2 separate regions of the Homo sapiens genome follow, and region 1 is linked to region 2. Evidence: fine-mapped expression QTL. Tissue or cell type: blood mononuclear cells. Region 2 holds a variant in brackets; the other region holds the start of a gene. All regions are shown on one strand. Distances are from middle to middle. Region 1 holds the start of TAF1A-AS1 (TAF1A antisense RNA 1). Region 2 holds the start of HHIPL2 (HHIP like 2).

What was found. PIP is the estimated chance that this variant, and not a neighbour inherited with it, causes the effect.
Region 1: TAF1A-AS1 starts here. The variant in region 2 is fine-mapped to the expression of TAF1A-AS1 in blood mononuclear cells (TOPMed, PIP above 0.99).

The regions. Positions count from the first base shown.
Region 1 is chr1:222,586,562-222,594,901 of GRCh38, reverse strand. It overlaps TAF1A-AS1 (TAF1A antisense RNA 1), which reads right to left and starts at 4,982. Exons shown (of 3, transcript NR_110613.1): 1 at 4,940-4,982; 2 at 4,495-4,644; 3 at 2,269-2,736. TAF1A (TATA-box binding protein associated factor, RNA polymerase I subunit A) reads left to right here and starts at 4,969. Exons shown (of 11, transcript NM_005681.4): 1 at 4,969-5,175; 2 at 6,337-6,459. The coding sequence starts at 6,339. RefSeq lists enhancers at 3,936-4,468, 4,469-5,002.
Region 2 is chr1:222,547,326-222,555,665 of GRCh38, reverse strand. HHIPL2 (HHIP like 2) reads left to right here and starts at 7,562. Exons shown (of 9, transcript NM_024746.4): 1 at 7,562-7,942. The coding sequence starts at 7,622. It also overlaps a transcript of TAF1A not described here. The variant T/C (reference allele first, on the strand shown) is at 3,886.

The DNA of each region.
Region 1 (8,340 bases), 39 kb before region 2:
ATGGCTGAAAATATCTCAAATTATCATAAAAGAAATGGACAAATCTAGGAAACTCAGTGAATGCCAAATAGTCTAATTACAGAGAAAATCACACCTAGACACATTATGGTCAAACTGCAAATAACCAAGTATTGGGAAAGAAAAGTTTTGCAGGCAGTCCGAGAAACATAATACATTACACATGGACAAAAATAATAAAGTGATAGCTGACTTCTCATCAAAAAGAAGAAGTTAACATCATCAGAGGGCTTAAAGTGCTGATGGACAAAAACTGCCAATCCAGAATCCTATATCTAAAGAATCCTTCAAAACTGAAGGCAGAATAGACATTTTCAGATAAATAAAAACAGAAAATTCTACACCAATAGACCTCCACTGTAAGCAATGCTAAAAAAAATTCTTCAGGATGAAAGACGATGACATACCAGATGGAAACTGAAATCTGTAATGTTTTAGTTATTCTTTTGATGTAATATATTTAGTAATTTAAAATAATAATTATTTATTATTTCTACCTATTCTATAGCTTTGCTTACCTGGATGATTCTCCTGCTCTGGATATTATTGGCTGGGGTCACTCAGGTGGCTGCATTCAGCTGGATGCTTAGCCAGGGCTGGAACTTCCAAACTAGCTTCATTCACATGTCTGGTAGTTCAGCTGTGTGGCTGAAATGGTTGGGATGGTTGGCTGAAATGTTTTTCATTCTTTAGTAATCTACCCTAAACTTACTTATTTGTTGGCCAGCTTTCTAGAGGATAAAAGTAAAGGTGTATGGCTTCTTAGGGGCTAGGCCTAGAATTGGTATGACATCATTTTCACCATGTTTTGTTCATCAAAGTTAAAAGACCAGCCCAGATTCAAGGGGTGGGAACACAGACTTTATTTCTTATTTCTTTTTTTTTTTTTTGAGACAGAGTCTCGCTCTGTCACCCAGGCTGGAGTGCAATGGTGCAATCTTGGCTCCCTGCAACCTCCGCTTCTCAAGTTCAAGTGATTCTCCTGCCTCAGCCTCCTGAGTAGCTGGGATTACAGGTATGTGCCACCACGCCCAGCTAAATTTTTTTTTTTTTTTTTTTTTTGTATTTTCAGTAGAGACAGGGTTTCACCATGTTGTTCAGGTTGGTCTTGAACTCCTGACCTTGTGATCCACCTGCCTTGACCTCCCAAATTGCTGGGATTACAGACGTGAGCCACCATGCCCAGCTGATTCTATTTCTTAAAGGGAGAAGCAACATGCACATACAAGAATGTGAATACTTTTTGACAGCTATTCTTAAAGATAATTCACCACAAACAGGAAGGAATGAAAAGAACTGGAAATAGCAAAATGTAGGTAAATACACAAAAGGTAATATATACTTTTCTTCTCTTAATTTCTTTGCGATACATATGACTAAGGCAAAAATAACAATGTGCATAGATATGATATATATGACAACAAAGCACAAAGGACTTGGGGAGGTGGTAAGTAGAACTTTACTATTGCAAGGCTCTTTTATTTTACATGAAGTATCATAATTTTAACTCTAAGGCTGTGATAAGTTAAGAATGTATATCATAATTCTCAGAAACACTGTAAAGCAATAATGCAAAAAGATACAGTTAAAGCCAACAGAGGAATTAAGATGAAATATAAAAACATTAATTAACCCAAAAGAAAGCAGGAAGTAAAGAACAAAGGAACACAAAACTGAATGGGACAAATCGAAAACAAATAGCAAAATGATAGACAAACTCAACTATCTGTTGTCTATAAGAGAAGCACATTAAATTAAAAAACACAGGTTGAAAGTAAAAACATGGATAAAAATATACCAGTAAACAGTAAGCTAGGAAGGCTGCAGTGGCTATACTAATATCGGATGAATTAGACTTCAAGATAAGGAGTATTATCAGCAATAAAGACATTTCATAATGATAAAATGGTCAATTCATCAGGAAGACACACGAACCATAAATGTTTATATGCCCAATAACAGAGCTTCAAAAATGCAAAAGAAAAGCTGACAAAACTAAAGTAAGTGGCAAATTCACAGCCATAGTTTAAGTTTTACACTCCTGTATCAATAATTAATAGCAACACTACACATAAAACAATCAATACAATATAGAAGATCTGAAGACAACTATTAACCACCTTAATCACGTTGACATTGATGGACACAATGCTCAATAACTACAGAATACATATTCTTGTCTAGTGCTCACAGAACATTCACCAAGATAGACTATATTCTGGGCACAGTAAGTCTCAAAAAAATTTTAAAGTATCAAAATTTCAGAGTTTGTTTTCTAACCATGGCAGAAATAAACTGGTAATTTCCAATAAGACTAGTCATAAAAAAGATAGAAGATGCAAATGATCAATGTTTGTGTTTCATTTATCTATTCCTATGTAAGAAATCACTGCAAACTTCAGTGGCTTAAAATAACAACCATTTTATTGCTCACAGTGTTGTGAGTCAGGAATTTGTGTAGGACTCACTGAGAACAGCTCATGTCTGCTCCATGTGTTGTCAACTGGTCTCACTCATGTAGTTAGATTCAGCAAGTGCCTGATTTAGGATACACAGTCTGAGATGAATTTCTTCACGTGTCCGAAACCAAGATGCTGACTGTTGGTTCCATGTGGCCTCTCTTTCCATGTGGTCTTTCATACTGCAAGAGCTCTTTCTTCACGTGGCCACTGTCTCCAGCAGGATAGACTGGTCTTCTTTTTGTAGCTGCTCAGAGTACTGAAACATGAAAAGAAAAAAAAAAGAAAAAGGAAGAAAAACCTGTGTCTTTGAGGATACAGTCCCTGGGGTGGAATTCTAGCCCATGTATTTTGGTTTTCTCTATATTATTATCTGAGATGTTTTTATTTTTATGCTTTCATGCCACATTCCTTTTTTATTCTCGTTAGCTGTGATATAGGATAGTCTATTTATGATGAGGTCTCTTCAACTGTTTGGCTATGTGAAGTTTGTTCTTTAATAGATTGCACAGGAAGCGTTCATGGAAATAATATTCCTTAAATGACAGTTTGCAACTTTAAAAACAACATAATTCATCACCATATTAAGTTGCTCTGTAGCACAAAGTAATTGTAAGAACATGTTTTTCTTAGGACATGTTTTCTTATAGATTGAAATCTAGAAAAGTCTTTGCATGCTTTATGTTTTCATATTTGTCATGCCTTTTTTTTTTTTTTTTTTGAGACATGGTCTTGCTATGTTGCCCAGGATGGAATTGAACTTTTGAGCTCAGCGATCTTCCTGCCTCAGCCTCTGGAGTAGCTGGGACTACAGATGCCTGCCACGGCAACCTTCCCTCCTTCCTTCTTGTTTATGCTATTGGATGTGATCTAGTTGATTTTTTTTATCTCTTCTCTCCAACACATTTTCTGTCAGAATTGCAGCATGGGAAAGAAAAAGCATAGGTAGGGCACGTTTCCTACTGCTCCTTAGAGCTGTTTGAGAACTTCGAGGAAAATCTGAAAGCTCTTCCTCATTTTCGGGAGAACATAAACTTTTTTCCATGTAAAATCATTTCTGGGCTGGTTTTGGTGAATTTACACCTCAAGCCAATGGGAGAAAAGTAGCCAGACTAAGCCTCTAGACAAGAAAGTAATGATTATGTATGTTATTTTGTGTGTGGTCTCCTGGACTACGCATAATTTATGTTAGCCCTGCCTGTAGAGTTAGAGCACAAGCTTGAGTGAGGACTCAAGAACTAATGACAGAGAGAGCAGCAGAAGGAACTTTTCTTGCAAGTCCTTAACTACTGCATATTGTTTTATGCAGAAGACAACATAGAATCAACTATTTGTAGCATTTTAAGGAATCCATGTACAAAATTTTTTTTGACAGGGTCTCATTCTGTCGCCCAGGCTGGAGTGCAGTAGGGTGATCACAGCTCACTGCAGCCTCGACCTCCCTGGGCTCAGGTGATCCTCCCACCTCATCCTCCCGAGTAGCTGGGACTAGAGGCATGCATCATCACCCCAGCTTATTTTTTTTTATTTTTATTTTGTAGGGACGGGGTTTCATCATGTTGACTAGGCTGGTTTCGAACTCCTGAGCTCAAACTTTCCGCCTGCCTCGGCCTCCCAAAGGGCTGGGATTACAGGCATGAGCCACCGCGCCCGGCCTCAAACTCTTACCAGACCCTTTAATTTCCTCTCCGATACTCCGATTCTACTCAAACTGTTCACCTACACAGAGGAAACTCAGTGATTCCTGGGGGAGCCTATGCTATATTTGTGCATCCTCATTTGTGGACAAAATTCTTTCTTGCTGTGACTTGAAAGCAGCCTCCCTTTACCTTTCACTTATTAGTCCTAGTTCTGTTCTCTGCTGCTAAGAAAAAGGGTCTGATCCTTCTTTCACTGATCAGCCCTCCAAATATTGGAGAAGCACACTGCGTTTCCATGGGCCTGCAGTCCTTTTCCGGGATCATCTTCCCTAGAACCCCTCAACTGTCTCTCATTTCACACGGTTTAACCATCTTACCTTTAACCCATATTTCATTTGTTTGTCTCAATGTCCCTCATGAAAGTTGACCCAGACGGGTCCGCAGAACAACTTTTGCTGAGAAGGCAAAGGAAATTCTCGCCCAAATTGTGGAGAAGGCAGTCGAACCAATTAAACCTAAAGCTAAAACTGTAATAGAAAAGAACTTTCAAGCTCGCAATGAAAAGGCTATGCATGGATTTATCTCATCACAGCCACTAGCCACACCTCCACTCGTGCAGTGCGCCTGCGAGCCGAGCAGAAACCAATGGCCCATCGTAGTGAATTTCTCGGGTAAAGTGACATTCTCCGCTTTTGAATGCTCCCTTCGCCCAGCCGCCAACCCCTCGCCCCAATTTCCATTTTAAATGAAAGTCTCCCACTTTCTAGCTGAGACAGACAAAAATAAAACTCGGGCAAAACCAATCGCAGAGAGGCAGCTCACTGTCACTTCCTGGGTCACTTCCAGAAGTCACTTCCGGGGTCGAGGCGAGGCCAACGATACGCCTGCTGCAGCAGGAGGAGTTACGAGCCGGGCCGCGCGCTGCCTAAATACCTAAACCAGGTTTAGCGCCTGCTCATATAAAGCTCTCCTAACTCGTCTTCCGGTGGGAATTTCTTCACGTGGGCCGGAGTCGGAGACTGAGTTTAGCTTTACTGAGGAGCTCTAAATTTAGGCGGGTAAGTGCCGCAGATATCGCCCGTGGTTCCTGCGTTTAAATGGAACGGGAAGGGGTGTGTCAGGATTCATCCATGTTCTCCTGATATTTCCTCCTAATACCTGAAACCCTTGGGGTCTGAAAACGAAAGAAGGGGATAGAGAAGCTTTGGTTGCCGTGGCAACTGCGGGTCACCAATTTGGGTTTTTGAGGATTTGGAAAGGGAGGATTTGTGTAACTACTCCTGAAAACACGTGATGGGTCGGATTCAAATTCAGTTGTTACTTATAATTCATACTCCTAGCCACATGCTTTGAATTTAGAAGGTTTACTCTGGGTATAATGCAGAGATGCAAAATCTGAGCCAGGGTAATTGTTTAGAAAGCTGATGCGGTAATCTAGGCACTGTTTGAAGGGGTCTTGAACTAGAGTAGTGCTGTAGGATTGAAGAGGGGAAATAGGGGAAATTTGGAGGTAGTATCAGGGGCACTAATACTCGATTTCATATGGGTAATGAGGAAGGGGCCCTGAGCATCTTTAGGAGTAAGTCTAAACTCACCTTGGCTTATGATGATTTTTCTAGGTTCGTTTCTCACCTTCCGCACCCCTCCTCCACACGCACCTCGAATTCTAGTCATGCCAAGTAGTTTGGTGTTCTATTTCCTAGACTATCGTCCTCACCATTTTTTGTGATGTTAGGCAGGTTCCATCATTTCACTAAGCCCCTCAGTTTTTTCAACCTTCACATGGAAGAAAGTAATAGTACCCACCTCAGGATTGCTGTGGGGATTAAATTAGATAATTTATACTTCTAGTGCATAGTAAGGGCCTAATAAATATTAGCTGCTACTTCTATTCTTACTGTACTTTTCATATTGTTTTGTTATTATACGTTTTGCTGTTTCTTCGTCTAGACTTGAGATTTTTTAAATTAGAGGGGCAGTATCTTATTTATCTTTACATGGACTTGAAACATTAGTGGTTCGGTCTTTAATGGATCATTCATTTTGGCTGTTGCTGACATAGTTAAATTCATTTTTTACTTTAAAAGAGCTGACAGGTATAATGCATTTTGCTAATCAAATTATATTTATTAGATAAAAAGATAGCCGTTTTTCTGTACAACTCAGAAGACTGTGGATTAAGATGTACAGAAAGTAACTGATATCTCATCTTGTAATAGGTATGAGTGATTTCAGTGAAGAATTAAAAGGGCCTGTGACAGATGATGAAGAAGTGGAAACATCTGTGCTCAGTGGTGCAGGAATGCATTTTCCTTGGCTTCAAACATACGTAGAAACTGTGGGTAAGTAAAATAATAACATTGAGCCATTTTAACTTTAAGGAGGTGGTAAGATTCAATAGGGATACAAAATGAATAACCAGACTGGTTTAATTTTCAAGAGGAATATGTGGAGGGTTTTTTGGCTAAAAGCCAAAAGAAATCTTTTTTCTTTTAGAATTCTTTGCCCTTGGATTAATAATAGATAGTCTGTATTATGCTAGATACACATTTTTTCCAGTAATACTTACTGAGCACTTTTATCTCTGGCATTGATTAAATATTGGGGAGTCATAGGTGAAGATATGGTCTCTGCCATTGAGGAAAACATGCCTAGGAAGTGTTCAAGAAGTTGCTGTTGAATTGCATTGAAATTATTTCGAATAGAATTGATCGTGTAATAGATTTTTTTTTTTTTTGAGACAGAGTCTTGCTCTGTTGCCCACGCTGGAGTGCAGTGGCTAGATCTTGGCTCACTGCAACCTCTGTCTCCCAGGTTCAAGTGATTCTACTCAGCCTCCCGAGTAACTGAGATTACAGGTACCAGCCACCACGCCTGGCTAGTTTTTGTATTTTTAATAGAGACAGGGTTTCACCATGTTGGGCAGGCTGTTCTTGAACTCTTGACCTCAAGTGACCTGCCCACCTCAGCCTCCCAAAGTGGTGGGATTACAGGCATGAGCCACTGCACCCGGCCTAGATAAAAGAGCATTTTCCCCCATTTTTATCTAATGTAAATGCAAGCATGATTTTCTATGGGATAAAATTTCCCCCATTTTTATCTAATATAAATGCAAGTATGTTTTTCTATGGGATAAATTCCCTATAAGAATATATTTAATATAAGTATAAATAAAAGAAGCTATTATCTGTATGCTGGCATATTGAGTGGTATAGTCCTGGGATTACATTTGAACCAGCATTTTACTTACTGCCCTTAAATATGTGTTTTTTTGCCCAGCCTTTTCTCCCCTTGACAGAGATTCCTTGGCTCCTAAAATTTCGCTTCCATTTTTTTCTTTTGATCTAAGTATCATCCCATTTAATGATCTCAGTAAATTCTCAATAAATTTTTATGCTAGGCAGTTTAGGTAGGATGAAACTGAATCTCAAAGACATTAAACTCTTAAGTGGTATCAGGAGTCAAATCCAGGTTTGTCTGATCTCAAAGCTTACACTTTTAACGACTGAGATGCATTTTTAAAAATGAGACAATATATGTAAAGTACCTAGCATAGTATCTCATGCATAATGAGTGTTGAAAAATAATAGTGCCTTTCCTCTCCTCATTTTATTTTTGCTAGATTAATGCACATGGCTTAAGGCAGATTTGAATGAATGATACTTCAGAGGTAGTGCTACCGCATCCCTGGTAGGGAACAAACTAGTAATTTAAATTTCCTATAGTTAAGTCATACTTGGGTATGTTTCTGTTACCAGTGTTCTATAGAAAGTCTGAGTCAGTCTGCAAGCAGATAGGTTTAAGACCAAAGACCAAAATTTACATGCTTAGGAATATTTTATATGTCATGGATAGCCTGTTAAACCGAAAATACTTTTGGTCTGCAATGAGAAAATACTTGCAATTAATATTGACATTGTGCTGGTAATTAACCATAATAGGAAAACAAAATTGCCTAACAATTGTTCTATTTATTTTTTATGCTGGTAGATATCTTTTGGCTTTTTGAAGGGCATGCCCAGCAACCCCCTTAGAATAAAAACTTTGAAGACAGGGCCAGTCTGGATTGAAGCTGTATGATGAGTACCTGCGATAGTGCTTGGGACACAGTGGTGCCCAAAAAATACTTGTTGACAGATTGATAAGTTTCCAGATTCTTTGAGTAGCATATTAGAAGTTAGGTTGATGACACTAGTTCTTTATTGTACATCTCTATTCCATGT
Region 2 (8,340 bases):
TACAGTACTGAACTGTCATCACCATGCTGGACATTGGATATCCAGAAATCGTTCATCTTGTATCACTGAAACTTTGTACCATTTGACCAATATCACTCCATTTCCCCCTTCCCTCAGCCCCTGGCAACCATCTTACCCTCTGCTTCTATGAATTGGACTCAGATTTCACATACAAGTGAGATGATCGTGCAGTATTTCTCTTTCTGTGTCTTGCCTATTTTAATTTTGCTCAGCATAATGTCCTCCATGTTCTGAATGGCAGGATTTCTTCCTTTTATAAGGCTGAGCAGTATGTAATTGTAATTTTATAAACCCTATCTTTATTCATCAAAGGACGTTGAGTAATGCTGCAATGAACATAGGAGTGCAGATATCTCTTTGCAACCTTGATTTCAATTCTTTTGGGTATATACCCAGATATTTCTATTTTCAATTTTTTGGGGGAACCTCCATATTGTTTTCCATAATTTACATCCCCAACAGCAGCATACAAGCGCTTCCTCTTCTCTTCATCCTCCCTAGCACTTATCTTTGACCTTTGATACGATTCATTCTACCAGGTGTGAGGCTGTATCTCCTGGTTTGATTAGCATTTCCGTCGTGACTGGAGATGTTGAGCACTTATTCATATACCTGTTAGCAATTTGAATTTCTTTTGAGAAGTGTCTATGTAGGTCCTTTGCCCATTTTAAAGTGGAATTATATTTTTGTTATTGAGTTGTATGAGTTCTTTCTATATTTTGGATTATTAGTCCCTAGCTGATTAATTATATGGAATGTGAATTACATCTCTGTAAAGCTGTCAACACCCCATTCCCTTCCCACCTCCCCTCATAAAAAGAAATAAAAGAATGTTCTATGGAGTCAGAAAGGTCTGGGTTCAAATTCCAGCATGACTGAAGCCCCCCACCTAGCCTGGGCCTCACCTTTATTCTGTAAAATGGGATGGTCTGGAAAGGTTGATGTAAAGTGCTGAGCATGGGTCCTGGTAAATGTTTTTTCTCAATAAATAGAAACATTGTTTTATGTTAACATTTTTGAAAAAGGAAAAGCAACAAAAATTAAAAAAACAGATAGGTGTGCCCTTTTGGACCCAGTTATTTACCTATATTTACAGCACAAGGGCTTTTTCTGCTGGATTGAATTAGAATCTTTGTATTTTAAATATTCCAAAAGGAAACAAGCAAGACCTTTGATGGATGGTCTACAAATAATATGACTAACATCTGAATAAGTCAATCCAAGATTCATGCTTCTAAACCAATCTGCCACCAGGTAAGAGTCGACTCAGTCCCATAAAAAATACGAAGCTGACTTCTATGTTGTTTTCATAGTTATGAAGGTAGCCTTTAGCTCAGTGAGTAGAGGCGGCTCTTTGTTTCCGCCCGTCAGTCCCATAGTGATACCACTGCCAGTTGTTTAATTACAACTCCCCTCCTGCCTATACCAAGAACTCCCAGATAATCTTATCAATGGAACTGAATCTTCAGTCAATACACTCTTCAGTAGGCTGCATCAGACAAATTTTTCCAAATGAAGAACAAATAAAAGTGATAACTACTTTCGTTCTTTTTGGGTACATCCTGATGGAATGAAAAAGATCTGGGCTGTAATTCAGAACACCTGAATTGTGTTGCCATCTCTATTCATCTAAAGTGGGGCCCTAAAATATTTCACTGAACCCCTCTTGGACTTCATTCATTCATATGCTCACTGGTAATATATCTACCTTGCTGACTTAATTGTCTTGAGAGAACTGAAGATCAAATGAAATGCAGTGTGGGGAAATACTTTGTAAACTGTAATGCTTCGTACAAGTGAGTTGTTATACTTTCTCTAATCTGAGGTACAACCTGTTCATCTTTAGACTGTGACAGAGGGAGTCTGAAGGCAGATAGATAGTTACATCAGTAAACTATATGAGAAGCTACTGAGCTAGAACATTTCTTTTTATATTTTTTCTGTTGTGTTCCATGACCTGATTTAGGATAAACACCTGACTCTCAACATCACTTTTTAAAAGGCACTTGCACTGGACATGGTGGCTCATGCCTATAATCCCGGCACTTTAGGAGGCCGAGGGGGATAGATCACTTGAGCCCAGGAGTTCAAGACCAGCCTGGGCAACATGGTGAAACCACCGTCTCTACAAAGAAAAAAAAAAGTAAAAATTAACTGAGCGTGGTAGCACACACCTGCAGTTCCAGCTACTGGCACTCCAGCCTGGGTGACACTGAGACCCTGTCTTGTGCGGGGCGGCGGGGGGGATGTTAAAAGGCACATGCTATATGAAACTGTGTGCGTGTGTGTGAATGTGTGTGTTACTGCTGTGGGCTGAATTGTGTCCCCTAAAAAAGAATGGTTGAAGTCCTACCCCCCAGTACCTCAGAATGTGACCTTATTTGGGGATAGTTTTTACAGAGACAATCATGTTAAAATGAAGTCATTATGGTGGGCACTAATCCAGTATGACTGGTGTCCTTATAAAAGGGGAAATTTGGACACAAACGCACACAGGGAGAAGGAGCACCATGTGAACATGAAGACAGAGCTTGGGGTGATGCATCCACAATCGGAATGCAAGATTGCTGGCAGACCCCACGAAGCTAGGGATCAGGCATGGAGCAGTGTCCCTTGCGGCCTTCAGAAGGAACCAACCCTGCCAACATCTTAATCTCAGACTTCTGGGCTCCCGAGCTGTGAGACAATACATTTCTGTTGTTTAAGCCACCAAGTTTGTGGCTGTGTTAACAGCAGCCCAAGCTAATTTTTTAAAGGATTATGTTTGCTTCAAAAGTGGAAACTGAAGTGATTTCAGATACTCTGTCTGGTCCTAGCTTATAGTTTCAGAGTTATTTTATAAGCTCACCTAATGTTCAGTGAAAATGTCTTTTCTGTTCTTTTCCATCTATAACTTATCTAAAAGCTCCAGTCAACTTTCATTATGATATTCTTAATCCCCTGCAGCCGAATGTCATCTCTCCGTCCTTGGGATCCCTAATGGCAGTTTGTTCCTCCCTTACTGTTACCTTAATCTTATATCTGCCAGTATTATTTGGATACTTTCATCCTTTTTTCTCAGAGCATAAACTCCTTGAAAAAGTTTGTTTTATATGTCAGTTTTCTGTTAAACATTTCTATTCCAGCATAATACTTCACACAAAATAGTATGTATTTACTGAATTGACACCAAGACATCTTTTGTAAAATTATTGCATGATTATTATATAATTACATATATATGTATATAGACAGAGCCTCGCTCTGTCACCCAGGCTGGAGTGCAATGGCGCAATCTCTGCTCACTGCAACCTCCGCCTCCTGAGTTCAAGTGATTCTCCTGCCTAAGCCTCCTGAGTGGCTGGGATTACAGGCACATGCCACCACGCCCAGCTAATTTTTTTTTTTTTTTTTTTTTTTTTTTTTTTTTTTTTTTTTTTTTTAGTAGGGACAGGGTTTCACCTTGTTGGTCAGACTGGTCTCGAACTCCTGAACTTGTGATTTGCCCACCTCGGCCTCCCAAAGTGCTGGGATTACAGGCATGAGCCACCATGCCTGGCCATAATTACATACACGATTATATCTAAAACGTAGTATCGTCTGAAATGTTACATATTTTAGTAATCAGAAACTCATGCTGTCACTGTCTGATCAGATTCTGCCCGCCCATCTTTCCCTGCTAATCTTGCAGTGACTCTGCTCAAAACAATAAGATCTCCATATTGTTCACGACAAAGGGGAAATCGATACATAAATGTCATGAGAAGATCAGAAAATACTCTCAGGTCCTACCTGGATGAGATAATGCACTCATTCTTCCATATCCCAGGGTTTGATGGTTCTGAGAAGGCAGTGGGGGTGAATTCACTGGCTGAAATTAGTCCA[T/C]GTTACTCCTCCTGCTTAAGGCTTCCAGAAGCATGACATTCTGTGACATTTGAGCAAATAACCCAGAAGAAATAGCACAGTCAACAGTGAATCATGGATGACATTTATTTTATTTTAATTTTAATTTATTTTGAGACAGGGTCTCACTCTGTCACCCAGGCTGAAGTGCAGTGGTGCAATCATGTCTCATTGCAGCCTTGAACTTCTGGGCTCAAGCAATCCTCCTACCTCAGCCTCCTGAGTAGCTGGGACCACAGCCATGCGCCATCACATCTGGCTAATTTTTTATTTTTATTTTTTTTTCTAGAGACAGAGTCTCACTATGTCGCCCAGTCTGTTCAAACTTCTGGGCTCAAGCCATCCACCCACCTCAGCTTCCCAAAGTGTTGGGATTATAGGTGTGACCCATGTTTTAAAAAGCACCACTCAACTAGGTATATTATATATATATATATTTTTTAAACAGAGTCCCACTCTGTCACTCAGGTTGGAGTGCAGTGGTGTGATCTCGGCTCACTGCAGCCTCCACCTCCTGAGTTCAAGTGATTCTCCTGCCTCGGCCTCCTGAGTAGCTGGGATTACAGGCGTGTGCCACCACACCCAGCTAATTTTTTTATATTTTTAGTAGAGACAGGGTTTCGCTATGTTGGCCAGGCTGGTCTCAAACTCCTGGCCTCAAGTGATCCACCCGCCTCAGCCTCCCAAAGTGTTGGGATTACAGGCATGAGCCACTGCACCCGGCCAACTAGGTGTAGTACTGAACAGTACAAATAGGAAAGCAGGACTATTCTGATGATCATTCTGACTACTCCCTCCTATCTATCTATCTATCTATCTATCTATCTATCTATCTATCTATGCATCTATCTTTCTGCCTACCTACCTATCTACAGGATCTTCCTGTGTCACCCAGGCTGGAGTGCAGCGGTGTGATCACAGATCACCACAGCCTCGAACTCCTATGCTCAAGCAATTCTCCCACCTTAGCCTCCCAAGTAACTAGGACTACAGATACACGCCACCACACCCAGCTAATTTAAAAAATTTTTATAGCAACAGGGTCTCACTATGTTGCCCAGTCTGGTCTTAAACTTTTGGGCTCAAATGATCCTCCTGCCTTGGCCTCCCAAAGTCCTGGGATTATAGGCATTAACCACACCTGGCCAATTTTGTTTGTATTTTAAATGCTATTTGGGGCTTTCATAATCCAGAACATTGTGAGTATAGACTTGGCTAGACTGAGGTTCACTGTCCCTTCTTGATGATACCCTGGCAAATACTGTTTCTGGCGATGAGTTGGGCAGCCAGGTAGGGCACCCTCTGAAGCAGCACATCTGGAACAAGAAGAAACTTGGACTTCATCTGCGTTTCAAACAGAAGCTTTTGCCAGTAAGGAAATTCAAGGTGGACCAGAACCATGGAAAATGCTGAAAGGAGAGTTAGCTCAAGTGCCAAATGTCCCCATTGGCCTACACCTTGGCTCATGCTTGTTTGGGTTTGGGGCTGTGTGAGTTTGGGACTCCTGTTCTGCATTTATTCATTCAAGAAATATTTATCAAAGCCTGTTATGTGCAAGGGATGTGGACAAAGGAAAACACGTTTTTATTTTATTTTATATTTATTTTATTATTATTACTTTTTGAGATGGAGTTTCACTCTTGTTGCCCAGGCTGGAGTGCAATGGCACAGTCTCAGCTCACTGCAACCTCTGCCTTCTGGGTTCAAGCGATTCTCCTGCCTCAGCCTCCCAAGTAGCTGGGATTACAGGCGCCCGCCACCACACCCAGCTAATTTTTTTTTTTTTTGAGATGGAGTCTTGCTCTGTCACCCAGGCTGGAATGCAGTGGCATGATCTCGGCTCACTGCAACCTTCGCCTGCTGGGTTCAAGCAATTATCCTGCCTCAGCCTCCTGAGTAGCTGGGACTACAGGCATGCGCCACCATGCCCAGCTAATTTTTTGTATTTTTAGTAGAAACGGGGTTTCGCCATGCTGGCCAGGCTGGTCTTGAACTCCTGACCTTGTGATCCGCCCGCCTTGGCCTCCCAAAGTGCTGGGATTACAGGTGTGAGCTACCACACCTGGCCGCTAATTCTTGTATTTTTAGGAAAGATGGAATTTCACCATGTTGGCCAGGCTGGTCTTGAACTCCGGACCTCAGGTGATTCACCCGCCTCGGCCTCCCAAAGTGCTGGGATTTCAGGCATGAGCCACTGTGCCCGGCCACAAAACACATTTTTAAAATACTAATGTGGGAACATATACTAAGTGAGGAGGAGTGTCCCTACAGCAGGTATAGATTTGGCAAAGGAAGGCACCCAGTTGTCCTGTGCTTCCTGAGGAAATTGTCCCAAACAGTCCTTGTTGATTCCTTGTTTTCACTGGACCACCTCCCTCTTCTATGGTCTGAATGTGTCCCTCCCTACCTCAGATTCATAGATTGGAATGTAATCGCCAATGTGATAGTATTAAGAAGTGGAGCCTTTGGGAGGTGATTAGGTCATGAAGGCAGAGGCCTCATGGATAGGATTAGGGTCTTTATAAAAGGTCTTGAAGGAGTGGATTTGAACCATCCTGTCCCACCATGGGAGCAACAAGTCACCATCAATGAGGAACAGAGCCCTCGTCGGACACTGAACCTGTTGGCATCTCTTATTTTTTTTTATTTTTAGAGATGGTCTTGCTCTGTTGCCCAGGCTGGAGTGCAGTGGCGTGATCATAGCTGACTGCAGCCTCAAACTCCTGGGCTCAAGCAATCCTCCTGACTCAGCTTCCCAAGTAGCTGGAACTACAGGTGTGCACCACCATGGCTGGTTAATTTTCTTTTTATATTTGTAGAGACGGGGTCTCACAGCATTGCCCAGTTTGGTCTCAACCTCCTGGGCTCAAGTAATCCTCCTGCCTCAGGCTCCCGCAGTGCTGGGATTACATGCATGAACCACCATGCCCAGCCCCTACTGCCATCTTGATCTTGGACTTCCCAGCCTCCAGAACTGTGACCAATACATTTCTATTATTTATAATTACAGTCTGTGGTGTTTTGTTACAGCAGCATGGACTAAGATTCCCCTTCTTTTCCTTCACTGTGTCCTCCTTCCTCTCCTTGGTCCTTACTGTGGATGCAAGATTCATGAAATGCCCTCTCTTCCTACCCTTCCAAATATACACCTTGCCAGATCCCAGGAGCTATACAGCACACCCTGCCTCCTGCCATGGCCCCTCCATATCTCCCACCGCCTTGGGGCCCTTCAGCACTGTAGAAACGCTTGAAGCTTTCCTTCTACAGAGTGTGAAGTCTGGGATGATGTAATATATGGTGCTCTCATGGTGACTCTGGGCCTCTCAGCCTGTGAAGAAACATAAAAAAGTGTGAATTTCCGGGCATCCCCACAGACAGCAGGAATTCTTTGCAGTTTTAAGGAATCGAGCACCTCTGCCATTGACACCACTACACTTTTGGCTAAGCAAAGGTGTGCCCCCATAACACTAGCAGCACTAGAGTGGGGCTTCATGTTTAGATGGGTTGGGGGAGGGGGGAAGGGACACCTCCCACTGCTTTCAAAGGGAGCCCACAGAAGGGACACTGCTCAGAAACTACCTCAGCAGGGAGGGGCGGGGAAGAGGAGGAAGGAGGAGAAAACAGGGTGGAGTAGGGGGAGGAAGAGAGGGAGGACCTTGGGCAGAGCAGGGAAGCCAACCTGAGCAAACACAGCAGCCCGAGTGTTCCCAAGGCCAAAATGCTGAGAACGTCCACTCCTAATCTGTGTGGTGGTCTGCATTGCCGGGCCCCCTGGCTCTCTTCTGGCATTCTCTGCCTCTGCCTCATATTCTTGTTGGGCCAGGTGGGCTTGCTGCAGGGACACCCCCAGTGCCTGGATTACGGGCCCCCTTTCCAGCCCCCTCTGCACCTTGAGTTTTGCTCTGACTATGAGTCCTTCGGCTGCTGTGATCAGCACAAGGACCGCCGCATCGCTGCCCGGTACTGGGACATCATGGAATATTTTGATCTGAAGAGACATGAGCTGTGTGGAGATTACATTAAAGACATCCTTTGCCAGGTAGTGAAAAGTGCCTTCCAGCCCCAGGGGTTTGGGTGCTGGGCTGCATGGTGTGGGTCCTGAGCGGAGGGTGCTTTGGGAGCCCAGCCCTTTAGAAGTTCATGTGCCGGGTGCCTCATCTTGGAGCTGCCGGCTTTGGACACGCACACTGACATGAGTGTGTGCTGAATTTGGTCTCCATGGGTTCCCCAAAGCTCTCCCTCTGGGATTCTGCTGGCCCTGATTCTTCTCCAGGCTCCAGGAGAATGAGAGGGACACTCTTCCTGGAGCTCTCAGAGCAGCCATTATTTGCCACACTCCCTCTGTGGTGCATGGCAAATAATTATTTGCATCCTCTGCGGTGCTCAGAGAGCTAGGCACTTAAACCCGTGGAATTTACCGAGCGCGTTAAGGGAGGG